Regions from separate parts of the Homo sapiens genome. Here region 2 is linked to region 1. The links come from fine-mapping of genetic effects on gene expression. Tissue or cell type: T cells. Region 1 holds a variant in brackets; the other region holds the start of a gene. All regions are shown on one strand. Distances are from middle to middle.

Region 1 (2,755 bases):
GTCTTGCAGCATGCCGCCCCCTCCCCTCCTCGATATTCTCACTGCCAAATGAAATCTGGCAGTTTCTGAAAATAGCTCAGCGCTGCAGCAGGCACTCTGCCCGCCCTTCAGCAGGCTGGCACACAGCTGGGGGTGGCCACTCTGGGCAGATGCTGGCACACACAGGACCGGGGGTAGGTGTCACACACACTGCACAGGGGCAGCACAGAGCTGGGGGCATGTGGCAGCTGCCATCCCTCAGCTCTTCTGACCTTTCTAGGCCTGGCGAGGACTCTGGCCTTGGAGTTAGCATGGCATGCTTATCAGGCCTGAGGCACCCCCTCCAGCTGGGGTGAAATCACTAGTGGGTCTGAGAAGCTGCCCTTGGGCCACCTTTGTCCACCCCTGTAGACAAAGAGTAAACCCAGGAGCCAAGAGAAAATGATGAAATGGTGTTTATTACTATCTGGATGTAAAACCCAGCAGTGTTGTCCTATCTGACATGGTCTAGGGTTTCCCAGCCAGTGAGAGAGGGGCCAGGAAGGAACTAGGCTGCGTGTCAGGCACTTGTCAGGCAGTATCAGGCACTCAGCACCCTAAGGCTACCATGGTGGGGTGGGGCTGGTAAGCTCTGATCAGCCAGGAAAGGCCCTCTCTGCCCTACTCAGGCCCAAGCCAGGACCAGACATTCTGAGCATGGCTCAGTCGCCTTCCCCAACCTCAGGTCTGACCCAGAGTAAAGAAAGAGACCTCAGGTTAATGGGAAGCCACTTAGCTCTGCTCCCAACCAGCCACTTTCACACAAGTATACCAAAAGATAGCCCCTGACTTCAACAGAGAGGGGCTTTCCTGCCTGAGATCTGGTGAGCAGATGGGTGCAGGGAAAGTATGCTGGCTTTTGTCACAGTGACATTTTCCAAAGTGGAAAAAAGTTAAAAATATCTCCCACCTTAAGTTCAGATGAAAAGTCACCCTTTGGGTCGGGAATAGTGAGGGGATGGCTAGGCCCAGGGACTCCCTCAGGGGAGAGCGCTGAGTGCCATCTGGGCTGGGGCTGCAGCAAGGCAGGGCTGGACTGCACAGGGAGGCAGGCAGACCGGATCCAGCAGCCTCAGGGCCCAAGGAGGAGTGAGAATGAGAGGGCCAGCCAGTGTGTGAGAAATCAGCCTCCCCAAGGCAGAGGTGAACCCTCAATCGCCCCTCCTCCCTTACTCGCTCACTCAGCATTCACAGGCAGCAACGTGGTCCCTGGTCACCATGGCAACCAATGGCCAATGCCTTTCTCAAGGCCAGGCCCATCTGCCCATCCCACAGGGAGATGTCTCTGTGGAAGATGGGAAGCCCAGCCACAACTCCCAGTGGCCTAGAAAGCTAAGGCCATGCACCAGGGCAGGACAGCACAGAGGCCTCACTCGGGCCAACCTAGCTAAAGGTGCTGCTATGGCAGCAGGCAGCTCCCAGCCCCTAGG[C/A]CCTGCCCATCTCTAGGGCTTGAGCCTGGGCCAGAGATCTGAAGGAGGTTTAGGGTCAGGGTCCTCCATCCTGAAGTTCCGAGTGACAAATTAAAACACAACAAAATAATCCTTTTGTTAAAAGAATGACCCTGGGCCCTCCTGGCCAGGGCCTGAGCACATTTCAGTCTGTTATGCAGGCTGAGAGGCCAGGCTCCTCCAAGGCCCCATGAGCTACTGGTTGTTGCAGCCCTGTGAGGCAGAGGAGCTGCCTGCCTGCTTTTTTCTCCTCTTGTTGAGGAGCCGGTTGTTAGAGGTCTTCAGGTCCTTGATCTTCACCTGGTCGTAGTCTACCCGCATAGTGGCCAAGGCACTGGTCATCTCCTCCTGGGGACAGACAGGATGGTGGGCACTAAGAGGTCAGGATGTACTGACCTTAGGAACCATCACCCCCCTGCCTGGGCAGCCCCTTAATGTCAGTGACAGCCTGTGCTGCCTCTGTGCCCACTGTGTGCCCAGCACTGGGCCAAGCCCTTTGCATCACATGATCCTCACTACCGTCCTCTGTGGTAGACACTGAGCTTATTCACTAAGGCACAAAAGGAGAGTTACTCCCTCGGACCACACCAAGGGTAAGTGGGATAGTGAACTAAACCAGTTCCACCACAGAACCACAAGACCTGCAGAGAATGCCATCTCGCTGGGCAACCAGCGCACTGGGGCCTGGAGATTGTGCCACTGGAGCTGCTACTCCATATGTTCAAACGTGGCCTCTGCTGGGTCTAAACCAGGCTGACCACCCTCCCAAATGTTGTTGGTTATAAGAGAGGTCATCATCCAAGCTTGGTACCAAAGCCCCGTTTCATTGAGGAAGTGAGCCAGGAGCACCACACTGAATGGCGTAGTGAGGCCCAATCCTTGGAGTGCCATGGTTGGACCACTGCGACAGTCACTGACACCCTGTGCTCCAGGTATAGAAAGGGGCCAAAGACCCCAGACCCTGGGTAGCCACCCCCCTGAAGTCCCTTTTGCCCAAATCCTGGCACCTGTATTGAGACTGAGGCAGAGCCCACCCACCTTGACTTCGTCCCAGTGGTCTTTGTCCTCCTGCAGCACTCGGGCCGTGTGGAGTGGGGTCTGTGGCACTACCATCGATTGCTGGAAGGAGCCCCACGCCCGTGGATTAGAAACTGGAGGCACCTGGGACAGCACTGGTTCCCCCTACTCCATCCTCTTCTCCCAGACTCAGATGGAAAAACCAAGGCTCAGGGTGGGGAAGGAGCCTCACTAGGGCAGTGACAAAGCCAGGTTGTAGGTGAGGCCCTAGT
Region 2 (2,755 bases), 79 kb after region 1:
TGCCTGAGAATAGTTGTGCTCTTGCTCTGACACCCCCTTGACTCCATTTAGAGCCTTACCCACCTATTTGATCATTCTTGTCTTGGCCACTTACGTTTTCTTCACATTTTTAGCTGGAGTGGGCTGAGCCCATAGCTCAGTCTCTGCTAATAAACGGGTTGGTGGTAGGTTAGGGCACATATGTGGGGACAGGACAGATCTGTGTCTAACCTAGCGTGTGTGATCTTGAGCAAGTCATTATTTCTGATTTTCACTTTCTTAATCCATAAGATGGGGGAAAATCACACCAAACCCATGGCAAGCAATGCATTAGTCTATGAATATCCAAGGCCTGGGAGGCAGCTCAACACACAGCAGGGACCAGATGTTACATGATCTTAACTGATGTTACAAGAGGCAGATGATTGCCTTTAATTGGGAGCTTTGAATCTGACATTGTGTGTGTACTGTCATGGATGTACATGCTGAAAATTTCCTCCTAATTTAACCTATAATCCGGGACATCAGCGTAAACCACCAACTAAAAAATTTACAATTGTATATTTAAAGAGGTCACAAGCAAGTTTAACTGAAGGTTTAAAATCAGCGGTCCCCTTTGCTTCCAGATAAAAGTCCAAACTAGCGTTTATTAAGCACCTGCTAAGTGCCACATCTTCAGATACAAGTAGGGTCAGAGAAGGGAAGCGACTTGCCCAGCGTCACTCAGGTAGAAACTGTCCCAGGCAAGCTGGGCACGGTGGCTCACGCCTGTAATCCCAGCACTCTGGGAGGCCGAGGTGGGCGGATCACGAGGTCAGGAGTTCGAGACCAGCCTGGCCAGCATGGTGAAACCCTGTCTCTACTAAAAATACAAAAAATTGGCCGGGCATACTGACGCGCACCTGTAGTCCCAGCTACTTGGGAGGCTGAGGCAGGAGAACTGCTTGAACCCAGTTCAAGCAGGCGGAAGTTGCAGCGAGCCGCGGTCATGCCACTGCACTCCAGCCTGGGTGCCAGAGAGAGACTCCGTCTCAAAAAAAAGAAAAAAAAGACTGTCCCAGGCAAGACACGAACCCGAGTCCACCAGACTCCAGAAGCGGCTCTTGCACCAGTGCGCCGTCCCAGGAGCCAAGGCCCGAAGTCAGAAGTGTAAACTCCCTCACAGCTACGCACCGCATTGTTAACGACCCAGATGAGGCCCCCTCTCTCCAACCCTGTTTCCCCATCTGCACTATGGAGAATGGTACCGGCCAGGTCTCCAGGCGGTTGCAGTCGAAACACCCCGTTCCGATCCCCACCTCCCATGCATACCTGCCTGAAAGGCTGCCCCACCCACCCACCAGCCGGAGAAGCTGCCCCGAACTGGACGCCCGGACGTGCGTGGCCCGTCGCGCGCTCCCTCGGACGCCCCGCTTCCGGGGTCGGCGCCTTTAAGAAAAGGCTCGGGCGGACGCCGTAGCCCAGCTTCAGTGTTCCTATCGCTGGTGGGTTCCTCCCAGGAGACCCCTGCGGATGGGTGGGGAGGCTGTGAATTCCACTCCCTCTACGCTCGCAGGCCTGCATACAGGAAAGTGCGGGGATGTGTGTGGGGTTGACCCTTGGGGGCCCGGACCTGCCGGTCTTCCTTAAAATCACAGCAGGGATTTGGCTCCAGCCCAAGGGGATTGCTCCGAGCTGGCGTTTAGGAACCAGGCCGGGAGGTGTGTGGGCGGAGCCCAGTAGCCTGCCGGAAAGGGGGCGTGTCACCAGAGGGCCCGGGTGTTCCGGCGGGGACCAGATGTCCGGGGGCGTGGTCTATCTTAGCCTGGGGGCCGGGTGGAGCTGTGCATGGGCGGGTTCCAGTGTTGAAGGCTGGTCCAACTTTGGGGTCCAGTCCCAGTGTCGTGACCCTACCGAGGTCAGTGGCCCGAGCCCACCAGGGGGTCGGCCGACTGGCGGCCAGACCCCAGGGGCCGCTCTTTTACCGATTCGAATCTTGACTCTATTGGCAACTCCTCCAGGTGTTGGGACCTCTGGACCTCAGTTGCGCCTTCTATAAAATACTCGGCAGCGTCTCGCAAAGTGTGTCTTGTCAACATCTCCCCACCAGAAAGTACTGTTAACTAGAACACTGTTAACTACTTTTTTTTTCTTTTTTTCTTTTTTTTTTTTTTTTTTTTTGAGACGGAGTTTTGCTCTTGTTGCGCAGGCTGAAGTACAATGGCGCGATCTCTGCTCACTGCAACCTCGGCCTCCGGGTTCAAGCCATTCTCCTGCCTCAGCCTCCCAAGTAGCTGGGATTACAGGCGTGAGCCAACACGACCGGCTAATTCTGTATTTTTAATAGAGACAGGGTTTCACCATGTTGGTCAGGCTGGTCTCGAACTCCTGACTTCAGGTGATCCATCGCCTCGGCCTCTCAAAGTGCTGGGATTACAGGAGTGAGCCACCACGCCCGGCCTTAAACTGCTATTAAACATGCTGTTTCCCTGCCTCCTTCCCAGACCGGGAGACACAGGGGCGTTTGCATTTGTACCAGGCTACCCGGTGACTCCCATAAACTACTTTGAAAACCGGCGGATCAGGAGTATCTGAGGGCTCCTTCCCTGAGCTGATCATGCCGTGGATGGAAGCTATTGTGAGGGTATATGTAGACTTGCCTGGGTCGGGGTGCCCAATAATAAATCCACCCCACTCTCAACTTCTGTAGACGAAGATTCCCCATCTTCGTCTAGAACCCTCACACCAGAGGACCCGTCTGAGTAGAAAGCCAAGGTTCAGGAAGGGAAAAGCAGTT

Evidence for each region. PIP is the estimated chance that this variant, and not a neighbour inherited with it, causes the effect.
Region 2: it holds the start of HEMK1, and the variant in region 1 is fine-mapped to the expression of HEMK1 in T cells (TOPMed, PIP 0.94).

What each region holds. Positions count from the first base shown.
Region 1 is chr3:50,646,953-50,649,707 of GRCh38, reverse strand. MAPKAPK3 (MAPK activated protein kinase 3) reads right to left here. Exons shown (of 11, transcript NM_001243925.2): 10 at 2,505-2,585; 11 at 417-1,814. The coding sequence ends at 1,662. Among named protein-coding and RNA genes, the nearest start is that of LINC02019, 21 kb to the left of the region's middle. RefSeq lists enhancers at 86-639, 2,131-2,630. The variant C/A (reference allele first, on the strand shown) is at 1,449.
Region 2 is chr3:50,568,110-50,570,864 of GRCh38, reverse strand. HEMK1 (HemK methyltransferase 1, mitochondrial release factors N(5)-glutamine) reads right to left here and starts at 1,343. Exons shown (of 11, transcript NM_016173.5): 1 at 1,291-1,343. It also overlaps a transcript of C3orf18 not described here. RefSeq lists an enhancer at 1,419-1,538.